4 linked regions of the Homo sapiens genome follow. The protein of the gene in region 1 interacts with the protein of each later gene in a pairwise test. Each region holds a gene or a part of one and is shown in the gene's direction. Other genes may lie near its edges.

What was found.
Region 2: the proteins of DUSP29 (region 1) and C17orf75 interact in binary tests that used the Homo sapiens proteins (3 or more experiments, as listed by UniProt).
Region 3: the proteins of DUSP29 (region 1) and ROR1 interact in a two-hybrid assay, tested with the Homo sapiens proteins (one study listed by BioGRID and IntAct).
Region 4: the proteins of DUSP29 (region 1) and CNTROB interact in binary tests that used the Homo sapiens proteins (3 or more experiments, as listed by UniProt).

What each region holds. Positions count from the first base shown.
Region 1 is NC_000010.11:75,056,621-75,063,654, reverse strand, and holds part of DUSP29 (dual specificity phosphatase 29), read left to right. Parts: intron 1-5,106; 5' UTR 5,107-5,140; coding exon 5,141-5,340; intron 5,341-7,034. UniProt on the Homo sapiens protein: Dual specificity phosphatase able to dephosphorylate phosphotyrosine, phosphoserine and phosphothreonine residues within the same substrate, with a preference for phosphotyrosine as a substrate. Involved in the modulation of intracellular signaling cascades.
Region 2 is NC_000017.11:32,327,933-32,332,199, reverse strand, and holds the end of C17orf75 (protein Njmu-R1), read left to right. Parts: intron 1-221; coding exon 222-437; 3' UTR 438-3,759; downstream 3,760-4,267. UniProt on the Homo sapiens protein: As component of the WDR11 complex acts together with TBC1D23 to facilitate the golgin-mediated capture of vesicles generated using AP-1. May have a role in spermatogenesis.
Region 3 is NC_000001.11:64,042,996-64,050,029, forward strand, and holds part of ROR1 (inactive tyrosine-protein kinase transmembrane receptor ROR1 isoform 1 precursor), read left to right. Parts: intron 1-6,695; coding exon 6,696-6,983; intron 6,984-7,034. UniProt on the Homo sapiens protein: Has very low kinase activity in vitro and is unlikely to function as a tyrosine kinase in vivo. Receptor for ligand WNT5A which activate downstream NFkB signaling pathway and may result in the inhibition of WNT3A-mediated signaling.
Region 4 is NC_000017.11:7,942,206-7,949,239, forward strand, and holds part of CNTROB (centrobin), read left to right. Parts: intron 1-1,185; coding exon 1,186-1,319; intron 1,320-1,917; coding exon 1,918-2,043; intron 2,044-2,270; coding exon 2,271-2,433; intron 2,434-3,522; coding exon 3,523-3,781; intron 3,782-5,161; coding exon of another isoform or gene 5,162-5,295; exon of another isoform or gene 5,296-5,355; intron 5,356-5,365; coding exon 5,366-5,517; intron 5,518-5,710; coding exon 5,711-5,774; intron 5,775-5,951; coding exon 5,952-6,122; intron 6,123-6,281; coding exon 6,282-6,414; coding exon of another isoform or gene 6,415-6,480; intron 6,481-6,876; coding exon of another isoform or gene 6,877-6,879; coding exon 6,880-6,952; intron 6,953-7,034. UniProt on the Homo sapiens protein: Required for centriole duplication. Inhibition of centriole duplication leading to defects in cytokinesis.

The sequences.
Region 1 (7,034 bases):
CAGTGAAGGATGTGTAAGCGAGCAGAGTCCCACTCTGGGCAACTGGAGCTCCAACACACGGGCCAGCCTCCAGGAGACTGTGCAGGACATATTTCAAAAGTGGTCCACTCAGGGTTGAGGAAGTGGGGATGTTTATCCACCAACTCCTGCCTCTAATTGGTGACAACTTCTGGGGGATGTTAACTCCACATACTGCAGGCCTGACCAGCACAAGGACTAGAAAATGCCCTCAAGCAGGAAAACAGGCATCTGAGGTAGGAAGGCTTTTATGTATATAAAGAACTGTCCACTTCTGCTGCAGTGACTTGAGCTGAGGAGGCACCTGTAGGCACCTGTAGTAGATGCTATCCTTGTAACAGGGCAAGAATAGCATCGATTACAGGGGCTTACATTTAAAAATCAATAGATTTCTCACAACAATCTATGAGGATCATAAAAATACCAGAAAATCTGGGCTTGCATTCCCACATGGGACAGCAAGCTGCTGCCCCCTTAATGGAGGCATATGCTCCCTGATGTGCCACACTCCCCACCACTCCCTAATGTCTCTTGCCTGAGGCCAACAGCCAGGTTTTTGTTTGTTTACTTTTTAACACCCAACCTACTTCCTTCCTCTATGTTATCTGCCTGGCCCCTCCCTGAAGGAGCCTGAGTTTGTCACCTTTTAAGGAGGAGACAGGCTGCCATTGCATGTAGGCCAAGTCGTCTCGGAGACAGCATTTGATTTCCTGGGACCAAATCTTTAAATATGAAGCTGTAACAGGAACCTGGGGGCCTCTCTTGACAGCCTGCCCAGCTCTCATTATGACATTTAGCCTGTGATTGATATTGTGTGTGTCATTGAGACCTTGGCAGTTAATCTCTGGGTCGAATCTATGGAAACCAAACAGAACAGATTTGTCTTCCCTTCCATGTTGGCTGTGATCTGGGAAACAGATGCTCCTGGCCTCTCTGAGAATTAGAGAGTTGGGAGCCATGCAGAGAGGGTGCACACAGGCCGCCTTCAGGATTTGGAAAGATTACAGGTCTGTGGTTTCTGGACGGTTCCACACTTTGTTCTCTTTCCCCATCAAATCTGCGTGCTGGAGGATAATAGATCCCAGGGCTCACTCTGCGTGCCAAGCTCCTCGGGGTAGACCGCACCACTTCCTCCTTTGTCTGGAAATCCAGCCGAGGCTTTCAGCACAGAGATGGAGACGGGGATGGTTCCCTCCACAGTGTAATGAAGGAAGAATGGCCTCACCAAGGGTGAGGTCAGCTTCAGTGATCAAAGGAGGCAGACGGAGGTTTCAGAACGGAATTGACTCTAGCGTCTCCCGAAAATCACCTCTTCTGAAGCTTCCATTAACCGCAGGCAGGGTTCAAGATGGCCTAAACCACCTTTAGGTGTATGGTGCCCAGCTTCTACTCACTTCGAACAAGAAGAGTGGGTGCCATGGACGAGCTGAGCTTCACACCTTTAGACACTGTGGGCCTGAAGCAAGGAGGGCTATAACTACGTATGCTCTTAGGGGACTGAAAGGTCTGGGCTCGTTTCTGTGAGAAAGATTTCTGGCCACTCCTTAAAATAATTTCTTCCTTCCTGACTGGAAACACAGCAGGCAGGCCCCAGAATAGAGTTTGGGCCTGAATGACCACCCGTGGGGGAGGGCAGCCCACCCTGCGCCTGCAGTCCCCTCACCTTCTCCCTCCTCCAAATCAGCCTGGAGGCTCAGTCCTGCCTTAGCAGCTCTTGCTGAGCCCCTTGCACAGGCCTCACAGCCCTTAATCATTCCTTCACCCCTCAGTCACTCATTCACTCATTCCATTCATTCACTAAGCCACTTCCTCATCCAACCCATATCTCCTGAGCACCTCTTACGTGCCAGACACCAAGGCTACAGAGAGAAGCCACACTCAGGAGCCCCGAAGCAAGGTCCTCTCTCCTCCCAGCCTGCAGCTGCATTCTGGGCCAAAGACCGGGCCTCCCACCCCACTGGGACAGCGGGAGGCATTTTGAATGAGCACCCTCACTACCTTTCCCTTGACTCCGCAGCACCCTGGCTCTCTAGCCACATCTCAGACAATTATTATCAAACTTTACTAAGCGTCAGACTCACTTCGGAGCTCATTGAGATACAGATGCCTGCGCCCCTACGAGGGTGCAGCCCGGATATCTGTATTTTTGGTTAGTGCCAGGTGACTCTGACAGACGTGGTCTTCAGACCACACTTTGAGAGACTTCACAGGAGGGTCCCCTTTGCTGCCTATTGCCCTCTCCACACTTCACCAGGAAGCAGGAAGTTGTTGGAGGAAGTCACAAACCCTGGCTTCCCACAATCCCTACAGACACTCATGGCTAGCTAGTGATCCTTTAAGTCATCTGCTATGGACTTGGGAGAATCCAATTCCCCAAAGCAGTGGTCTCAACCCTTTCCTTTTAAATTTCTATCATGGAGAATTTCAAACACACCTGAAGAGAAACAGCAACTGGCCAGGTGTGATGGCTCACACCTGTAATCCCAACACTTTGGGAAGCTGAGGTGGGAGGATCACTTGAGCTCAGGAGTTCGAGACCAGCTTGGCCAACATAGCGAGACCTCATCTCTATTTTAAAAAAGGAAAAAAGAGAAACAACAACTACCTTATAACCATCATCCAGCCCCAATCACCATCACTCATAGCCAGCCCATCTCATTCACACCTACATCAATACCTTGCCCCAACATTATATTATTTATATTTTCCAACTATATTATTTTTGAAGCAAATATTTCAGTATGTTTTTCTAAAAGATAAGGCCCTGTGGTATAACGTAACTGTCCTCGGAATCTCCAGCAAGTCGGCTGATAGATATAGACCTCTTTGGTGAGATGATTCCCGCCATGGTGGTGTGCTCTTCTATTCGAAGGCATATGATGTCTGACCATCTCTTCTTATTCATACGTGGCTGGCAGTTTATGCTCAGTCTCTGGATGCAGCAACTCATCAGGTGGTGTAAAATGGTGCTTCCTTCTTTATTCATTATCTGGAATACTTCTATAAAAGAACATTTCCCGTATCAACCCAGTAGTATATAGTTTGTAAAAGAGAGAAGCAATACATGCAGATTCTTCTCCTTTATCTATCCATCTTCAAAATAAGGAGCTGGTTCCCAAACATCTTCCAACCGTGCATAATAAGTTTTGGGTTTTTTTTTTTTTTTTTATAAGGTCTCACTGTGTTGCCCAGGAGAGCAGTGATATGATCTTGGCTCACTATAGCCTCAGCCTCCTGGGCTCCAGTGGTCCTCCCACCTCAGCCTCAGCCTCCTGAGTAGCTGGGACTACAGGCATGCACCACCACACCCAGCTAATTTTTGCATTTTTTTGTAGAGATGGGTTTTGTCATGTTGCTCAGGCTGGTCTTGAACTCCTGGGCTCATGCAATCTGCCCACCTCAGCCTCCCAGAGTGCTGGGATTACAGGCATAAGCCACTGCTCCCGGACTGTTTTCAGTATTATTATTATTATTTTGAGATGGAGTTTCACTCTTGTTGCCCAGGCTGGAGTGCAGTGGTGCGATCTCAGCTCACTGCAACCTCTGCCTCCTAGGTTCAAGCGATTCTCCTGCCTCAGCCTCCCAAGTAGCTGGGATTACAGGCACCCGCCACTACACCCGGCTAATTTTTTGTATTTTTAGTAGAGATGGGGTTTCGCCATGTTAGGCAGTCTGGTCTTGAACTCCTGACCTCAGGTGATCTGCCCGCCTCGGCCTCCCAAAGTGCTGGGATTACAGGCATGAGCCACCGCGCCTGGCCTTCAGTATTATTATGACCTAAGTGTTTGATGTGTTTTGATCCACTGGAATTATTTTTATTTTTCATGTTCAAATTGTTCCAGTTTTGATAAGTGGAAGCTTCTTCAAGTTGTATTCTGAGTCCCTTTGACATGTTCCTAATGGTCTTTGAAGCCATGAACCCTTTCCTACATTCTCTGCATCCCCGGCCTGCCCCTCCTCACACTGCACCTCCCATCTCCCTCCCCCTGACACTAAGACCCTGTGCTACAGACAGCCTCAATTCATGATCCTCCTTATCTGTAAAATGGGGCTAATGATAGGGTATTAGGATAACCCTATCTCAGTGTTGTTAAGATTAAATGGGCTTACAATCATCAAGCACTTGGAATAGTGTCTGGCACACAATAGGTGTTATATAAGTATTTGTCAAATAAATAAACAAATAGCATTCACCTCCATGGTTCTCAGTCTTCCCACCTTTTCCTCCTTCTCTCCAGTCTCCTTTCCCAGGCTGACCATAGGTGCATCATTTACTCAGCTCAGGAAACAATCAATGTCCAATTCCACTGCAAATTCCTCTCCTTGGGGACAATGGAAAGTCCTCTCCCACATTCCACTGGCAGAGCCTAACAAGCTCTCCAAATGCACATTTCAGTCTCGAGGCACAGCTTTCTATCTTGGGGCATCTCTTCCAATCCCCTTGGTAAGTTAACACAGTGATGGCCAGGCTCCCAGTGTGAGAGTGTGAGCATTGCCTTCAGCTCTTCTGACAGGTTAACCCTCATGCAGCCAGGTTTCCTCCCCTCTCAAGGCTTCTGAAGTCCTGCTGATGTGCGTGTGGCCCAGACCCAGGCCCGGGCAGGTATGGCCTTGGCGATGTACTCTTTCCACTGGCTGACGGCTCCCTGCAGACACTGAGAGGGCCACAGGCCTGGAATGTCAGGAATCTTCTGGGCCTTCCTATTTTGGGTCCCAAATGGCCCAAACCAGTAGGTTTCAGTCAGATAAAGGAAAAAGTAGGAACCAAAGGAGTAAAGTCTAAAGAAAGGTGGGAAGGAACTGGCTGCTTGCAGGATTTCTTAGCTCCAGAGCCCGCCTTGGCCCACGTCCAAGGACCCCAGCTCTCCTTCTCTAGAAAGATTGGAACATTGGGGAAGTGTCATTTAACTGCCATCATGGCCTTCCTTGTTTACCTGTGTGGCCTGGGAAGAGGAAGCCGGGGCATAGCAGGTTGGGGAAACTCTTTCCAAATTTTAAGATAAGCTTATTCCCACCTCTTTTTGTAAAGCCTATTCCCTGCCTCAGTGTCCCCTGCTAACCCCCATCCTGCTTCTCTCTCATAACCAGCTGCAGAAAGGAGAGAAAATCCCTTGGCTCTAAAATGACATCTGGAGAAGTGAAGACAAGCCTCAAGAATGCCTACTCATCTGCCAAGAGGCTGTCGCCGAAGATGGAGGAGGAAGGGGAGGAGGAGGACTACTGCACCCCTGGAGCCTTTGAGCTGGAGCGGCTCTTCTGGAAGGGCAGTCCCCAGTACACCCACGTCAACGAGGTCTGGCCCAAGCTCTACATTGGCGATGAGTAAGTGCCCAGGCCCAGGCTCGCTTGGGAGCAGGCAGCAGCCCCTCCCCAGGCCACGCCCTGCGCCACCTCCTAGCCATGGGCTTTGGAATTTGTAGTCGTTCTGTGAGAACTCAATTAGTTAGGGCTGGGCTTGCCTTCACATTACAGAAAACCTAAACAAAGTCTTAGGCAAGATAGAGGTTTATTTCTCTCTCACATATAAGTGCAGAGGGAGGTGGGCTGGGGCTGGCACGGCCACTGCAGGGTCATCAGGGACTCAGACTCCTGTGTTTCTGCGCCACTGTCCTGGGGACGTGGCTTCTTCCCTCCAGGTGCTGCAGGGTCCCAGATTGCCGCCAGGACCCCAGCCATCAACTCTAGGACCCAGACAGCAGGAGGGTGGAGGGAAAGAAAGAGCAGAAGGGCATCTTCCGAAAGCAAAGTCCCATCCCAGACTTCCCCTGCCCCTAGCTGCAAGGGAGCCTGGGAAATGTAGTCTTTTATTTTAGCTAGCTATAATACCCTCAAGAATAAAATCAGTTCTTAGGTGGATGGTGCAGGAACACATCAATATATGCCTGGAAGTATGGGAGCCTAAATTTAGGTCACTGTCACCTCCTTTAGATTTTTATAACCACCATTCCCCACTCCCTACACAACTGAGATGCACCTACTGTAAATAATATTAATAATGATAACGACTATCCTTTCTTGAACACTGTATGCCAGGCATTGTGCTAAGCATCCTGCATGCATGATCTCATTTTACTCTCCTGATAACCCAGTGATAGAGGCTAATTACTCCCATTATAAAGATAGGGAAACTGAGGCACAGAGCAGTTAAATAACTGGCCCAAGTCCCACAGCTCAGTCAGTGGCAGAGAGCTGGGATTAAAATGCAGCTCTGCCCAACCCAGAGGCTTGTTCTTAACTGCTCCTCCCTCCACTCTCCCGGACTCCAGCCATGTTCCATCTCACCAAGGAGCAGATGCAGATGCTGTAGGACCCCTCCATATATTATTGTATTTATTTTTTTTCTTTTTCTTTTTTTTTCGAGACAGTCTCACCCTGTCACCCACGTTGAAGTGCAGGTTGGAGTGGTGTGACCTCGGCTCACTGCAACCTCTGCCTCCTGGGTTCAAGCAATCCTCTGTCTCAGCTTCCCAAGTAGCTGGGATTACAGGCACCTGCCTCCACACCTGGCTAATTTTTTATTTTTAGTAGAAACAGGGTTTCACCATGTTGGCCAGGCTGGTCTCCAACTCCTGACCTCAGTTGATCTGCCCACATCAGCCTCCCAAAGTGCCGGGATTAAAGGTGTGAGCCACCGTGCCCGGCCTATATGTGATTTTAATACATATCTTGCTGCTTAATACCTGGAGATAATCGTCTAGCCATAGGAAGATCCAGGGTAAGCATCCCTTGCCTTTCGTCTTTCTTTTTTTAAATTGAAAAAGTTACAAATATGACATGCTTAATTATACTAGGTTAAATGAGGTAGAGGGTTATAAAGACAAACTGCATAATCTCCCTTTGTCTCCTCTTAATTCTACCCCTGACTAACCAGTGTTAAATTTACTTGCATACTTCTACTACCTTGTGTGGGCTATTGCCAACATAAGGAAACATATACACACATATAAAGGGTTTACTTTTTTTTTTTTTTGAGATGGAGTCTCCCTCTGTCACCCAGGCTGGAGTGCAGTGGCACC
Region 2 (4,267 bases), on another chromosome or scaffold:
TTGCGCTTCAGCCTGGGCAACAAGAGCGAAACAAGAAAAAAAAGGAGATTTTCTTCTTCTACCAAGGGCAAAGCATACTGCAATTTAAATTTTGGAAATATTTAATATGAAAAGCAAACAATTCAGGAAGATATGTTGAGTTCTCAGCTGGATAGGAGTTATTTTTTGAGCTTCATTATTATTTCACTTAACACATTTTTAACTGGGTAATCATTTTCTAGGCCATACAAGACACAAACAATTTGAAGAGATTTATCCGACAGGCAGAAATGAATCATTATGCTTTGTTTAAATGTTACATGTTCCTAAAGAACTGTGGTAGTGGAGATATACTTTTGAAGATTGTTAAAGTGGAACATGAAGAAATGCCTGAAGCCAAAAATGTGATAGCTGTCCTTGAAGAATTCATGAAAGAAGCTCTTGACCAAAGTTTTTGATCATATGTTTTGAGATAATTGTATGATCAAGTTGTATATTTAAGTCTTAGTGTTTGAAATTGCAGTTATAATTGTTCATAGGATTGCTATTTAAGATGATTTGAAACTCAATCCAGATTTTCTTTTTGTATTTTACCAATTTAACTTAAATAAAAATCTGAAGAACATCTTCACTGAGTCCTAGATAGATAATGTATGTGAGAGTTGTGAAATTTTAGTGTCTCACTGGCCCCATAAATTCCACGCTTCAGGAAGTTGTTGCTTAAAAAATTTCAGAGATGATTTTGTTTGTGGCTTTTCTCAGGAAAAGCCTGAGTTTGCTGCAGTATTTAGCAACTTTTCTTCTCAGAAAAACCATAATACTTCCTTTTCAGTGGACTGTAGCTTCTTAAAAAAAAAAATGTAATTCTAGTCTTAGAACAGATTAATACCACTACACCAGTTCAGAGATAGATCTGTGCATCCTGTGGGTGCTTGATACATTTTTTTGTCTAGTTGATAACGGCATGGATGATAAAGTCAGATTTTAAGTCAATATGCAAATCCTGAGTATGTAGAAAATTAAATGAGCTTTACAAATCGATGCACTAGCTTCAAGATAAAATATTATCTTTGAGCTGGGCGCAGTGGCTCAAGCCTGTAATCCCAGCACTTTGGGAGGCTGAGGCGGGCAGATCATGAGGTCAGGAGATCGAGACCATCCTGGCTAACACAGTGAAAGCCCGTCTCTACTAAAATACAAAAAATTAGCCGGGCATGGTGGCGGGCGCCTGTAGTCCCAGCTACTCTGGAGGCTGAGGCAGGAGAGTGGCGTGAACCCAGGAGGTGGAGCTTGCAGTGAGCCGAGATCGCGCCACTGCACTCCAGCCTGGGCGACAGAGCGAGACTCTGTCTCAAAAAAAAAAATAATTATCTCTGAGAGAAAGCTACTGCAGAAATCGCCTTCAGTCACCATTTCATTTATTTGTTCACAGGTATTTATGAAGAGCCTGTGTTTTCTTTTAGGTGAAAATGCTGGAGTTTTAAAACAGTGTTGAGAAAAGAAACAAAGTACATACAGTTTACAAGCAAACTGTAACATAAGGAATGCAAACAGTTTCTTCCTATTAGAGTTACTCATTGATTTTAGTTTTTTGTACATTTGTTACAAGCCTCAGATTGTTTTACTCTGAATCAATTGAAAGTGCCCTCAGCTAGCCATTTACAATTCCCATGGAAGCCTATGTAGCTACATACATACAATTGCAATTTGCTCGGGATAGCTCTTTAATAAATTCATTTGATAATGATTTTTGCTTAGAAGAACAGAAGTCTTGTGTTCTCACTTCCCTGAGGATGCTCAGAGGAGCACAAACCCATAAAACTGAGGAATCCTCTCTTAAATGGATCTAAATTCACATTAAGTGCTGAGTTTTAACTTTCAAAATGACTGACAATGGCCTTCTGCTTTCTCCTCTACATAAGCCTCGGGACATGACTCACATTTCTTTTCTTTTAATGAGAAATACAATTCAGAATCTTCATAAATGCTTTCATACGGTTTTAAACTTTAATAACTTGGAATGTAGGCAGTATAGAAAAAAATCTAAGTAGCATTTTTCATAGTATTAAAGTGAGAGTGGCTGGGCACGATGGCTCATGCCTGTAATCCCAGCACTTTGAGAGGCCGAGGCAGGTGGATCACCTGAGGTCAGGAGTTCCAGACCAGCCTGACCAATATGGTGAAACCCTGTCTCTACTAAAATTACAAAAATTAGCTGGGAACTGTGGCATGTGCCTGTAGTCCCAGCTACTTGGGAGGCTGAGGCAGGAGAATCGCTTGAACCCGGGAGGCAGAGATTGCGGTGAGCCGAGATCGCGCCACTGCATTCCAACCTGAGTGACAGAGCGAGACTCTGTCTCAAAAAAATAAAGTCAGGGTGACTAAGGAAAACCAGCAATTTTATGACACTGTCCTTGAATCTGACTGTCTTTTCCCAATGTAGTTGGTTCCCCACTTGGAAATCATTTTTTAAAGTAAGCTACATTAGCACATCAACGTTTTAAGTCTGAAAAAATACTTCATTTTCAAATTCATGTCATTCAAGAGTCTATGTTGTAAATGGCATTTAAAAGCAAATGTGTTACCTGCTTCAAATCATTTATGGATATAGGCAAGGTGTAATTACATATTCTCTGTGTGGTTGTATATATTTTTGTAATGTAGGCTCACTACATTACACAGCTCTATATGATAGTCTTATTTTATCTTTTTTTTTTTTTAATGAAATGGGGTCTCACTATGTTGCTCAGACTGGTCTTAAACTCTTGGACTCAAGCAATCCTCCCACCTTGGCCTCCCAAACTGAGCCACTGCACCCGGCCTCTGGTAGTCTTATTTTAAAAAAAGTAAGTCTGGGCTGGGTGTGGTGGCTCATGCCTGTAATCCCAGCACTTTGGGAGGCCTAGGCGGGCAGATCATGAGGTCAGGAGATCGAGACCATCCTGGCTAACACGGTGAAACCCCGTCTCTACTAAAAGTACAAAAAATTAGCCGGGCGTGGTGGCAGGCGTCTGTAGTTCCAGCTACTCGGGAGGCTGAGGCAGGAGAATGGCGTGAACCCGGGAGGCGGAGCTTGCAGTGAGTCGAGATCACACCACTGCACTCAAGCCTGGGCGACAGAGCGAGACTCCGTCTCAAAAAAAAAAAAAAAGTCTGACAAACTCTGTATCACTACTGTAGACAAGGAAAATGGTGTCATGGAACTGAATATCTTGGTCATGAGAAGAAACCACAGAGTTCATGACTAGAAACATGTACTGTATTCAAATTTTAATAAGCTACTATCTTGGCTTTTAAAGTTGTTTTTTTTTTTGTTTTTGTTTTATTTTTTAAGACAGAATCTCGCTCTGTCACCCAGGCTGGAGTGTGGTGGTGCAATCTTGGCTCACTGCAACCTCTGCCTCCCAGGTTCAAGTGATTCTCCTTCCTCAGCCTCCCCAGTAGCTGGGACTACAGGCATGTGCCACCATGCATGGCTAATTTTTTGTATTTTTAGTAGAGACGGGGTTTCACCGTGTTAGCCAGGATGGTCTCGATCTTCTCACCTTGTGATCCACCCGCCTTGGCCTCCCAAAGTGCCGGGATTACAGGCGTGAGCCACTGTGCCCAGCCAGCTTTTAAAGTTTTAAAAAGGATTTGTTCAGACATGGAATATATTTGTGTATATTACTTGTGTGCTGTACACACAGAGGAAATGTATGTTTGTCATGTATGAAGAATGGCTTCAGTTTCTCTGTAATTAATTTGTAATTATAATAATAAAACTTAGCTTCTCATCAAGACAGTTGTTTTTGTTTAATGAGCTCAGTCCTCAAGCCTAACATTTGTATTCCCAACAAGGTTGTGAGGAAATTATACTTGCTATACTAAGGAATTTGTTGAAGAAGATCAAATCACTTGCTGGGATACACACCTTTCTGCTTCTTGCAGGAGGCATCAAGCAGAATCTAAGAGCAATTTCCCTCACAATGTTTTATTCATTGTCCAGTAGAGTTATACTCATAGAACTCAATAACCCAAGTTACTTCCTTTCACTCTCATTCATTATTCACCATGACAGAATGCCTGTCCTCTACCAGAGGATCCCTTAGACCAGGTGCCAGGAAAGCCTGCGGGCTTCTTGGAAATAAGATGCAGTTACTAGGACCACACTTTCCTAACAGTGTGTCTTCTCACTTAATGGAAACCCTGCTGACTTCAATGAAGTCTTTCCACTTGGAGGTCTGAGAGGGCAGTCCAGTTCTCTTAATTGCTAAAGTTCCTAAATGTGGCTGGATGTGGTGGCTCA
Region 3 (7,034 bases), on another chromosome or scaffold:
AGGATTTTGGCATGTGCCTCTTTTGATACCAAGACCCAGGCCCTAAACCTAATTGTGACTGGCTCCTCGGCTGACTGGCTGGGTTGCCATGGCAATGGACTGCTCAACTCTTTATATCTCAGTTTCTCTCACCTGTCAAAATGGGAATATAACACTTGGCCCCACCTTCCTCCCTGAGGAGAGATGGGGGCACTTTGAAAATTAAGTAATAAATGTTGGGAAGGATTTGTGGATTTGTGGATGTGACATCTTGTCAAGTGGGTAAATAATAAATGGGGTGTCTCCAAAGCTAATTTGCCTAAAATTCACTTGAGCCTTCCATTTACTTCATCAACCAGCGTTTATTAAATGCCTATGAAGTTCACAATAACACATGAAGTGCTGAGGGGAATACAAAAAATGTAAAAAGGAGGAAATAGAGTCTCAATTCCCAGAGAGGTCATAAAATAACTTTTTTCTTGCAGTTTGCTTTTTCTGGTTCATTAAGCCTCAGTACAGACCATGCCTGCACTGTATTTAAAAAGCTCATTCTCAATGATGACTTCCAGTTACGTCATAAGCAACTAGTGGTGATTTAGTTGTTTTCAGTACCAGTGGGTATTGTCACATGCTTGATGGACTCATAAAAAGGCAAGAATATTTTTTAGTTCAGGTTATGAGTGGTGCAAAGGACAATGAAAGACTACAGGTTGGATTGATTGGGAATCTGATTGCATCAGAACATAATATGGTCTCTGCTGTTCAAAGGCGTGGGTTTGGGTCCTGGCTCTGCCGCTTTCTGGCTGTGTGACTTTGGGAAATTCCTTAACTTCTCTGTGTCTCAGTTTCCTTATCTCTAAAATGTGGTCAGTTTTAGAGTCTACCTCATAGGATTGTTGTCAAGTTTAAATTAAAGTGTGTAAGATGCTCAGAATAGTGCCTGGCATTTTGTAAATGCTCAGAAAAATGTTAGCTATGATCATCACTTTCCATTGTTAATGGGAGAAGATGGTGGCACTAAAAGGATACTGGCATTTCATTTTCCTACATTGTAAAGGTAACAAATCCTTTTTAATTCAGAGTCCTAAACTTTTGCCCAGATCTGACACAATCGCTTGGGATTGCCCCAAAGCCCCAAACTGCTTGTTCGGAAATAGAAAACATGCCATCCAAGCCACTCTGCTCTCTGACTCATACCGTTCAGGGCCTGAGCTAACCCATTTTGTTCTGAAAGCCTTACACCAGTCTAGGACCCTGAGGGCTGGGAAAGGGCAGCTATGGAGTGTGATGGAAACAGCGCTGGGCTTGGTGTCCAAATCCTGGCTTTGCCTTTTATTAGCTGTGAACTCTGGGATAGGCTGTTAAGTCCTCTGAACTGCGGTTTACCCATCCTAATTGTGCAAAAGCAATGGTGGGTGAAACTGCTCAAACAAATTCAGACAATGGCACCAACGGTACCAAACTAGTGGTCACTGTACATTCCACTGCCATATACTTGTAGTTGAAAAGAAAAAAAAAGCCAATTGCACTTAAGAATATCTTCCATGGAGCAGTAAAAATTATTAATTGTATTAAATCTTGACCCTTGAATACATAGATTTTTAATATTTCATATGGCAGATGGGCAGTATACGTAAAGTACTCCTGCCAAGTACTATGACTGTCTCAAAGAAAAGCATTTGAGTTCTGAGCTGAACTAGCCACTTTTACTTTAAAGAATGACCGACAGAAAAATTATGGTTAGTTATTCTTGAATATTCTTTAAAATGAGGAAAATGAACCTGCCGCTTGAAGGAAACAGTAGTATTAATTGCCAATAATAAAATTTGAACTTTCCAGAAAAAGTTAGAATTTTGCGAAACTTTTAGCCACCATCACGAGCTTGACAACTTCTTCCCAATCATAACTGATGGCACTGGTGGTGATATTAATGCATTTGAATTTTCTATATTAGATAAGTAAGGGTGTCCACATTTTGAAAACGAACGTAACTCAGTAAACCAGTGTTCTCTAAACAGGCAATGCATGATGTTACAAAATCGTATGTAGGTAGAATAACCATTCAAAGTACAAGATAAATCAATCCATTATAATTTAATAGATTATGAAAAGTTTATTGATATGATTTCAGATTTCACATTGCAACCAACGTTTAAGAAACTACCACCTATCGAATTTTGGTGTAGTATCAAAGAAGAATATCCTAAATTATCTGAAAGACTATTAAAAACCCTTCCCTTTTCCAACTGTGCGAAGCCAGATTTTCTTCAACTAAAACAACATACCTCAACAGATTGAATGCTGAAACAGGAGGCTTCAGCTGTCTGGTTTTAAGACAATAATAGATATTCAATAATAAAAAAAAAATGCCACTTTTCTCACTATTTTTGGTATACGCGTGTGGAAAATATTATTTTACTAAATATTTTATTAAAATATTTATGTTAAGCAATGGGATTGTTTTTATTTTTAAATAGGTTAATAAACAAATATTTTAAAACTTTCTCCCCTCAGTGGCATCAATATTTTAAGGATTATCTAGGAGTCCTGAGACCAAAGAATTTGAGAACTTCTATCCTACAGCATGGACTCTGGAGCCAAAATAATTTGTTTAAAATCTCACTTCTACTTACTGTCTGTGTGATCTTGGACAACTTTCTTACCCTCTCTGTGCCTTACCCTCTCTGTTTTCCATGTGTAAAATGTTCATAACAATAACTGTCATGATGATAAATACCATTTAGGTGTTAGGTATTACCACCATCATTATGAAATCATTATTGTTGTCAGTGTCATCATCATCATTATTACTAGTATTAGCACTGGAAGGCATCATTTGTTCAGGGACACAGAGCTAGAGGTGGATTCAGTGGGACTGGAACTTTTCCCTTAAGCCAGACTATACCCTACCTCCCACTTACCATCTGCCATCTTGACATTTGCAGTCTAGGGAAGAAGGGAAAAAAAGATGAGAAATCTTCCATAGCTCAAGCACATATCATCAGAGCTACTGAATCAAACCATTGAAAAAGGTACAAACAGCCAGGTTTACACATAAAAGCCAGATTGCTTTGTCTGGCATTCAAGCTCACTGGACACCTGCTGCCTGTCATCCAGTTGTTCTGCAGCTGCCCATATAGAAACACAAACTGTCTCAGAAGAAGCAGACCCAACCCCAAAGGCCCAGATTATGAATCCAAAGCCCAGGGAGGTGAAGTGATGGTCTGACACACATCGCTAGAGAGTGGCAGAACTGCTACTTGAGTCTAGTGTGAATTCCCTCTGGACTGGACACCTTTGCTGGGATGCCCAGGTGTTCTCGTTCTGCTTACTAAGTAAGCAGCTACAGATGGCCAACAAATTTGAAACTTCTTCTTCGTCAGTGAAAAGTTAAAACCAAATTCCCTGTTTGTGGCAAGGCTCCTTTGTTCAGTAAACACAAAGATCTATTTACATTTCTTTTGTTCTCTCTGGAAACACACTGCTTGGGTCATCTACTACACTGATTTCAAGGTGCCCTGCAACCCTCATGTTGTTTTTAGATAGATATTTTATAGAGCAGATCAGGTGAGGTGCCTGGCCTCTGGAGGGAAACCAGAAAGAACATCAGCCAGCACCCATGGCTAAAGCTTAGGCCCATTAACCAGACAGTCTTGGCTGAAGTTAGGGGAAGAGCACAACCCTGTGGGTATATGTGTGTCCACGGCCCACCTTGGTTTAGGGAGATATTCCAACTCTCCATGGGTCTCATGGTACCAAATCTCAGCCCTCAATGGGTCTCATGGTACCAAAGCAGACTGGTGGAGTGAAAAGATTTGGGCTTGGCAGCCAGAGAGATGTAAATTGGACCTCAGTTCTGCCACAAGGCCTCCGGCAAGTCACTAAACCACTCTGATCCTAGGTTTCCTCATTGTAAAACAGTGATAATGACTTCTCCCTTGCAAAGTTAGCATACAGGTGAATACTAAAGTAAAGCCCTAGCATATAGTAGGATTTCAAAATAGTCCATTATTGGTCCAGAACTGGCCAGCTGCCTCAAATGGACTTTCTTTAGGTGCTTGGCTGAGCCTGAGGATTAAAGGCCATTAGTGATGGAAGCTTTGGGCAGTTTCCTGAGTAACCATGGGGCAAGTCTGCTAATCTCTGAGACATGACTTCCTCATCTGCACTGGAAATCATAGTAATTAATGTGCCTTTCTTACTTCTCTAGATTGTTAGAGGATAACAGGAGACAGAGGCTGTGAAAACATTTTGTCATGTGAAAAGTGGTATACAGAAGTTATTGTTATAAAAACAATAGTAACAACATTAATTAACATTTTTGAGTGCTTACTTTTTGCCAAACACTGGTTGAAGTGCTTCCCAGATGTCACTCACTTTCATTTTAATCCTCTTCTAACAGTTCCCTCAGATGGAGCCCTGTTTATTATTTTGGTTTTTCCGTTGGTTAAACTGAGGTACAAAGAGGTTAAGTAACTTGCCCAAAGTCACACAGATAGGCAAGGGGCTGACCTGAATTCAAACCCAGCCAATCAAATTCCAGAACCTGTCCAATGCAGTATTAATCACTATGCTTATAGTGGCATTGTTATGTGATTGCTATCTCTAAGTTTCTCTCCACAAAGGGTACATAGTTATCTATTCTCAATGAATGATATGGGGCTATAAAGGCATGATAATGGCTCCATAGAGCCATCTGCTAATTAGTCTCCCTCCTTTCTGGGCATACCTCAAACATCTTAGGAACATATGTGCTTATATCCATGAGCAAACACATTCGTGGATTGAGTATAGATGTATATAGATTGGAGAAACATGCCCAAAGATAGAGATCAAAATATAAATGTTAGGAAGCAAAGCATTAGCAAGATCATTTATGGGCTCATGAATCTGTTGTGAAGGATAATTATTCATTGGCTTAAGTGAGATGGAAAGTGTCATTATGGTAATGCAGTAGTCATGCTTAATCTGTTTCCTACTGCACATGTGATAAATGCCATTCATATGTGAGACACACTCCTGTGAGGCTGCCCAGACATTAACAATGTTCCTTCTGAATTTGGGGGGACGGAAATTAAAGCAAATAATGAATCAATTATTTTTAGCATTTATGAACTCATTTTACAGACATTTGGGCAATTAAATTACCCGGTTAAATAGCTCAGAAAAATGTTACTTTTCAATAAACTTCCATTAAATTCAACAAATTTGTGGCGTTCTACCTGTGCTGTCCAGTACAGTAGCCACTAGCCACATGTGGCTATTTAAATTTAAAAATTCAGTTTTCAGTTGCTCCAGCCATGTTTCATGCATTCAGTAAGCCCTGTGTGACTAGTGGCTATCAATCAGACAGTGCAGATTATAGAACATTTCCATCATTGCAGAAAGTTCTGGTGGATAACACTGCTAGACAGTAGTATACACTGAGGATGCAGTGATGACCAGAACATTCCCATCCCTGCCCTTATGGGGCTGATAGCTCTGCTGAACAAGTTACCCCAGACTTGGACCTACGGAAGGACATAGGACAATGAGAAAGTATGGCAGGGGATCTATCCAAGAAGGGGTGCTTAGGAAAAATGAAACCAAAGAAAGCTCCCTACCCATGAATAACAGAGCACGTTTTTAAAAGAAATCAAACTTAATTAAAAATAAATAAATAATTTTATCTGCAATTGGATTCTACAACTAATATTAATATTGATGTTTAAATACTTGATTGAAGAATAAGCTTAAATAAAACTTATTTTGTTATTAAAATTCATAGTGCAATAAATCTTAAGAGGAGCCAAAGCAAAATATACATGCAGCATGATTCCATTTATATGAAGTTCTGAAACAGGCAAAATTAACCTATGGTAATAGAAATTAGAACCTTAGTTGCTTCAAGGTGGGGTGGGAGGGAGTGGTTGGGAGCAGGGACCAACTACAAAAGATTGTGGGGGTACTTTCTGGGTTGTTGATGTTCTATCAAGATAGGGACATTTGTTACATGAGTATATGCATTTGCCTGTACTCATAGAACTGTATAACTAAGATCTGTATATTGCACAGTATTGTATATGAATTAATCTATATATATGTGATCAAAATAATTACATATTGTAACATGTTATGGTTGATATCAGTAATATTATGGAAATGTCCATTGCTTTATTACTCTGTCTGCCTCTGACCTGGCCTTCATAACCTTATATTGTCAGTAACATGAAAGTTTCAGGCATCCTTTCTGATCTTGTGCCATGTGGATATGAATGTGTTGCTCCTACTTTTCCAATTTTTGATGCTTTCTTTCTTATCAAAAGTGAGCAAACTGGAAGGATGTTTGCCAGGATGTTAAAAATGGTGTTATTTTTGGGTGGGGAGATTTGAGGTGAACTTTATTTTCTCTCTTTTGCTATGCTGGAATTTGGAACAAGGAGTGTATATGATTTTTTGATCTGAAGCACAAAAGCTTATCCATGTAGTCTTTTGGAGACTTTGGGTTCTATACTCTGATTAGTGACAAATTTTCTTCCAAGCAGCAGGCTCTATGGGTGGTTATTTAGCAGTCCTCTGGTCTTAATCAATGTGATTGTTTCTTTCCTTGTCTGTCTCACCTGCCTCTCCTGCTCAGCCTCTCTGTGATCCCAAGGGTACACTGGAGGGGATTTGGCTGCTTGGAAGCCCTCTCAAGCTGTCTGCCCCTCTCACCTGCCTCCTCTCTGTGCTCACAGATTCTTACCTGACCCTCGATGAACCAATGAATAACATCACCACGTCTCTGGGCCAGACAGCAGAACTGCACTGCAAAGTCTCTGGGAATCCACCTCCCACCATCCGCTGGTTCAAAAATGATGCTCCTGTGGTCCAGGAGCCCCGGAGGCTCTCCTTTCGGTCCACCATCTATGGCTCTCGGCTGCGGATTAGAAACCTCGACACCACAGACACAGGCTACTTCCAGTGCGTGGCAACAAACGGCAAGGAGGTGGTTTCTTCCACTGGAGTCTTGTTTGTCAAGTTTGGTAAGCAGACCCCTACTGGGGATGGACTTTGGCCCTCAGCCCAATGTGGTA
Region 4 (7,034 bases), on another chromosome or scaffold:
GCAGTGAGCCATGATCACACCACTGCACTTTAGGCTAAGCAACAGAACAAGACTCTGTCTCAGAAGTAGGGGCTGAGAAATAACCACTATTTGGATTTAGAAATTGAGTTCTTTGGGCCATGCGCGGTGGCTCACACCTGTAATCTCTTTGGGAGACTGAGGCGGGTGGATCACGAGGTCAGGAGATTGAGACCATCCTGGCTAACACGGTGAAACCCCGTCTCTACTAAAAATACAAAAAATTAGCTGGGCGTGGTGGCACGCACCTGTAGTTGCAGCTACTTGGGAGGCTGATGCAGGAGAATTGCTTGAACCCGGGAGGCAGAGGTTGCAGTGAGCCGAGATCGCGCCACTGCACTCCAGCCTGGGTGACAGAGAGGGACTCCATCTCAAAAAAAAAAAAAAAAAAAAAAAAGAGGTTGAGTTCTTTATAGTAAAATACTATACGTGGAAATCAGATTTTAGTGAGTTGAAGGACTGTGGCTGAGAAAATGGAGACACTTATAGGTTGACTGCTTAAGGAGGAAGAGGCACTGCCATTTATTGAATGTCTACTGGCTTTCAGGTACTCTACTCAGGGTATTTTTTTTTTTTTTTTTTTTTTTTTTTTTTTTGAGACGGAGTCTCGCTGTGTCTCCCAGGTTGGAGTGCAGTGGCGCGATCTCGGCTCACTGCAAGCTCCGCCTCCCAGGTTCATGCCATTCTCCTGCCTCAGCCTCCCAAGTAGCTGGGACTACAGGCGCCCGCCAACACGCCCGGCTAATTTTTTGTATTTTTAGTAGAAACGGGGTTTCACCGTGTTAGCCAAGATGGTCTCGATCTCCTGACCTCGTGATCCGCCCGTCTCGGCCTCCCAAAGTGCTAGGATTACAGGCGTGAGCCACCGCGCCCAGCCTCAGGGTATGTTATATCAGACACGTAGAATGGATTTGATTGCTCTGTCGAACATTTATTTTAGCTAAGAAATTTATGTCTTTCACCCATAGTCATTTTCACTTTGATGTATGTTTAAAGTGCGAATATCTTAATAAGGAAAGGGAACCTCTTTCACTCCTTGAGGCAAAATTCTTGTTCTTCATCTCATATGAGGGGAAAGTTGGTACTGGATTTTGTCTACATTATATCCTCCATCCTCTTCTAAGCCCAAACAGATTTGGGCCGTTATCCCACCTTCCTTCACTCCAGGCCCGGTATGAAAGCCAGCGGATCCAGCTGGAGTCGGAGCTGGCTGTGCAGCTGGAGCAGCGGGTGACAGAGCGGCTGGCGCAGGCTCAGGAGAGCAGCCTACGGCAAGCAGCCTCCCTCAGGGAACATCACAGGTACGTGGGACTCACTGGGTGTCACTTCTCTCAGCCACAGCACGTATCGTTAGTGCCAGGCCTGTGTTCCCTTCAATCCCTTTGCCATGGTCCAGCACTGTGACTCCCAGGGTGCGCTAACTCCCATCAGCTGGGACCTGAGTCTCTCTCGGGAGGGCTGCCTTCACGCGTTCATGGAGAGCCAGAAGTGCCTGGGAATTTTCATCCCATAGGGAGTAGCCCTTAACCAAGAACTGATGGGTGCAGAATGATAGATGGTCCAGCTCCCTCACTGGGACAGTGCTGAGGTATGACCTGTGCTGTCTCCAGAGCTGCTCTGTCGGACTGAGCCTCCTCGCAGCCTGGCCTCACTTCTCCTCACACCCATTCTGCTGCCGAGATTTTCTGGAACTGCTTCCGAAATAAATTTATTTAAGTCTCTGCTTCTGAGGAACCCATCCTAAGACCCCAGCTTTGTCCTTGCCGCTTCCTGTGCCATGGCCAGGCTAGCTGACTGGCTATCTGGGTCACTGTCATGTGCACACATGATGTCTTTTTCTCAGTTGGTCACTTCTTCTGTCTCCAGTCTCAGGCCTCTTCTCCTACCTGTGCCCTGTAGGAAGCAGCTGCAGGACCTGAGTGGACAGCACCAGCAGGAGCTGGCCAGTCAGCTAGCTCAGTTCAAGGTGGAAATGGCAGAACGAGAGGAACGGCAACAGCAGGTGGCTGAGGACTACGAGCTCAGGTCCTGGTCCCCAGAGTGCCCCTTTCAGGCCCCAGCCCCTTTCCCATGGGTAGAGCCCAAACTGGGAACGGTGAAGAGCTGCTCCCTTGATTGATCTGTCCTCCTCTACATGGGCCCCAGCTCCTTTCAGAATATCAGATGTCCAACATTTCCCTTCTGGCTCTTTTTAGCTCCCAAGTATCTGCTTCCTTAAAGGCCCTGAGTCACTTCTTCTCTCTTTGCTTCAGACTGGCCCGGGAGCAAGCGCGAGTGTGCGAACTGCAGAGTGGGAACCAGCAGCTGGAGGAGCAGCGGGTGGAGCTGGTGGAAAGACTGCAGGCCATGCTGCAGGCCCACTGGGATGAGGCCAACCAGCTGCTCAGCACCACTCTCCCGCCGCCCAACCCTCCAGTACGCCTTACCCCTTGAGCTAAGCTTCTCCGTTATGTTCTATTTTTATTTTTATTTTTGAGACAGGGTCTCACTCTTGCCCAGGCTGGAGTGTACTGGTGAGATCATAGCTCATTGCAGCCTCGAACTCCTGGGCTCAAGTGATCCTCCCACCTCTAACTCCCAAAGTGCTGGGATTCCAGGCATAAGCTACCATGCCCAGCAAGAACTGTGTTCTAGATTCCTTCTTTGGAAATCTAGCTCCCTCCCAAGGGAAGTACTAAGTTCAGCTCCTAAGGCCTACATCAGGGGAGAAAAATCGGTGGACTTTACAAATAATAACTGCCTCAGCAAAATAAATCCTTTTTTCCATGGCCATAGCTCACTCAGACTGGCCCCATTCCATTGGGCATAACTCTAGTCTCCCAGTCCCAAGAGGGGACAAATGATACGTGGTACTAGTTTTGTGGAGGGACAGCTGAATTAATTATGAGGGAAAGGGCCAAAAATTGTTGCCAAGTCCTGCCCCAGAGTAGAGTAGGGAGTCTCACTTCCTAGCCCTTCATACGTTGATACTTCCCACTTCCTTCTTTTAATTATGAAATTCTAGCAGGTGTGGTGGTGCGCCTGTAATCTCAGCTATATGGGAGGCTAAAGCAGAAGGATCACTTGAGCTCAGGAGTTCAAGACTAGCCTAGGCAACATAGTGAGACCTCATCTCAAAAAAAGAAAAAGAAGAAAAAATTAGGATATTTTAATTTTAATTTTATTTATTTATATACTTATCATTTATTTATTTGAGACAAGGTCTCACTCTGTTGCCCAGAGCGCTCAAGCAATCTTCCTTCCTCAGCTTCCTGAGTAGCTGGGACTACACACACGTGCCATTGCCCCCAGCTAATTTTTAAATTTTTTGTAGAGATGGCATCTCTCTATGTTGCCAAGCCTGGTTCAAACTGCCAGCCTCAAACGGTCCTCCCAAAGTGTTGGGATTACAGGTGTGAGCCACTGCATCCGGAAATTTATAATCTTATTAAAGTGTTTGTACCATGTCTTATCTCTTTAAACCTACTGTGCTTTGACCCTTCTTTCTGCCTCTCTCCTGGTCAGGCTCCTCCTGCTGGACCCTCCAGCCCCGGGCCTCAGGAGCCCGAGAAGGAGGAGAGGAGGGTCTGGACTATGCCTCCCATGGCCGTGGCCCTGAAGCCTGTATTGCAGCAGAGCCGGGAAGCAAGGGACGAGCTACCTGGAGCGCCTCCTGTTCTTTGCAGTTCCTCCTCAGATCTTAGCCTCCTGTTGGGCCCCTCTTTTCAGAGCCAGCATTCTTTCCAGCCCCTGGAGCCCAAACCAGACCTCACTTCATCCACAGGTAACTGGGGGCAGAAGTCACTGGGGTTCCCCTTCTGTGCATGAATTGGCTCCCTCTTTCGTACCCTGCTTTCTGTCTGATACTTGAGCATTTAGTTTCCCAGATGCCTTTAGTGATCGCAAGTTGCAAGGAGCAGAAATCTGCTCACATTGGTCCAAATAAAGGGATTGAGATCTCATGGAAATATGACATCGCTGGACTTAATGAGAACTGGAGTTGGGAACGGGGTACTATCAGGAACTGAGGCAGCTAGCTGGCCCTTTTCTGTGGGCCTGCATAGCCTCCTGGGTCCACCTCTCCTGCACATCTGCTCTTTTTTCTTGCTAGACCAGCATTCAAGGTTCTCACCCTTCATAACTTCAGTTTACACATGGGTTTGACCAGCTGTGATACTGACTCTAGCTGAGCCTCTAGACATTTATAGAGACATCGGTGTCTCAGTTTTTTTAGGTCCAGTTTAAAGAGGCCATCTGATTGGATTGGCTGACCTTGGGTGTGGTGTCCACCCCTAGTTTAATGTCACCTGTGATTTGAGTGGATGGGGGCATTCTGTGTGGTACAAACATGACAACCTAGGTCGAATTAAAAATGAGGGATGGGGCCGGGTGCAGTGGCTCACGCCTGTAATGCTAGCGCGTTGGGAGGCTGAGGTGGGAGGATGGCTTGGTGCCAGGAGTTCCAGACCAGTCTGACCCATATAGTGAGACCTCATCTCTACACAAAATAAAAAGTTAGCAGGATGTGGTGGCACACACCCAAATTTCCAGCTACCCAGGGAGGCTGAGACAGAAGGATTGCTTGAGCCAAGGAGTTTGGGGCTACAGTGAGCTAAGAAGTTGCCATTGTACTCTAGCCTGGGCAACACAGCAAGACTCTGTCTCTTAAAAAAAAAAAAAAGAGATTACAGCTCACGCCTGTAATCCCAGTACTTTGGGAGGCCGAGGCGGGCAGATCACAAGGTCAGGATATCGAGACCATCCTGGCTAACACAGTGAAACCCCGTCTCTACTAAAAATACAAAAAAGTTAGCCGGGCGTGGTGGCAGGCATCTGTAGTCCCAGCTACTCGGGAGGCTGAGGCAGGAGAATGGTGTGAACCCGGGAGGCGGAGCTTGCAGTGAGCCGAGATCGCGCCGCTGCACTTCAGCCTGGGCGACAGAGCGAGACTCCATCTCAAAAAAAAAAAAAAAAAGAGAGATTAGTTGTAGCACAATTAAAAATTTTTTAATTATGTGAGAATAATAAAAGAATGAGGCATATTCGGGGGAAGAGGTCAGAACATGTGTGTTACTCATTTCCATTCTTCAGGGAGTTTGTGAGGGTATTTATTTGTTTAGAGTTTGAGTACCACAGCTTTCTTCTGTCTATATTTCTGTCTTAGAATTCAGCTGTGCCATCTCTCAGTCACCTCCAACCCTTCCCTCTCCAGCTACTTTAAACCTCCATCTTCATCTTCTCTTAGCTGTGATGTTCCTCTTCCATTTAATAGGCCCCTTTCTTCTGAGTATTAGGTGAGTTGATTTGTGGAGAAGCCCCTTCCCCCCTGAACACACTTGCACCCACCCATACCTGTTTCACTTTATAGCTGGGGCCTTCTCTGCACTTGGGGCCTTCCATCCCGATCATAGGGCAGAAAGGCCATTCCCTGAGGAAGATCCTGGACCTGACGGGGAGGGCCTCCTAAAGCAAGGGCTGCCGCCTGCTCAGCTGGAGGGCCTCAAGAATTTTTTGCACCAGGTAAGAGAGATTCCACCCAGACTAGCTCACTTTCTTCTTCCCTTTCTCCTTTCCTCTTTCTGCTCTGGGAATCCAGGACTCTGGCCTCATTCCCTGTTTATGACTAACTCTTTGTCCCAGCTTCTTCTCTCAGATCCCTGGGCGTTTTTCTCTATCAGTCCCTAGGGAACTTGACAATCTTATTCACCCACAGTTGCTGGAGACAGTGCCCCAGAACAATGAGAACCCTTCTGTCGACCTGTTGCCCCCTAAGTCTGGTGAGTTCCAACTCTGAAGAAGGTTGGGGCTGGGGCCTAGGAAAGATCGGAGTTGGTTATCTAGGATGAATTTTTAGGAGCTGGCAAAAGTAATAAAGCCTTATAAATGCTGGGTGGTGGGACTTCCTTGGTTCTATGCCCCATTTCCTGATTCTTGGCATTCTTTCCTTTTGCTAGGTCCTCTGACTGTCCCATCTTGGGAGGAAGCCCCTCAAGTGCCACGTATTCCACCGCCTGTCCACAAAACCAAAGTTCCCTTAGCCATGGCATCCAGTCTTTTCCGGGTCCCTGAGCCTCCCTCCTCCCATTCACAAGGCAGTGGTCCCAGCAGTGGTTCCCCAGAGAGAGGTGAGCATGTTCTGGTTTATTAGGGAAAAAAGGAGGGACAGTCCTGAGTGTGGATCCAGTACAGGCACTTACAGTCCTTCTGAATTCCTGGGGAAATGGGCTGAGGGCTGGGGAGACAGGCCCTAGGATGACGCCTGTGATTATTGCGATGTCTGTCAGGTGGAGATGGGCTTACATTCCCAAGGCAGCTGATGGAGGTGTCTCAACTGTTGCGACTCTACCAGGCTCGGGGCTGGGGGGCTCTGCCTGCTGAGGATCTCCTGCTCTACCTGAAGAGGCTGGAACACAGCGGGTACAAGCCTGGGAGGAAGGAGGAAGGATTCTCCGGGTGGAAGCTGGATTATGGGGAGTGGAGTGGGTGTGTTTTACACTGAATTGAATCGTTGTCCTTTTCTGGGGAGGAAAGTGAAGGATGAGAGGTGGATCCACAGATCTTCTCTAACTGCCCCACACTTTTCTTTTATCTCCTCCTTTCTATTGCTTTTTTCTTCTAAACAAAAAAATCTTTTCCCCGGGTCTCTCTACCTTCGTTTTTTTCCTCTTTACCCCTCAGCTCAAAACTCAGAATCCTAGACTTTTGACTAGCTAGTGTAACTCGTTATTTACTTCCACTAATGTCTCCTCCCAGTTGATGCCCAGGTCTATCGAGTTTGATCTTATTCTTAAGAGATAGAATTGGGGAGTAGTTCTTCCATCCAGTATTGGGTAACCGGGGGGACGGAGATCCCCATCCTCATACCTTTGATTTGTGTAGCAGGACTGATGGCCGAGGGGATAATGTCCCCAGAAGGAACACAGACTCCCGCTTGGGTGAGATCCCCCGGAAAGAGGTGAGGGAAAGTCAGGCAGGGACCAGGGGAGAAAAGGGCTCTCACTGACCAGCTCCTTCACCTCTGCACACTCCTGGCTGGC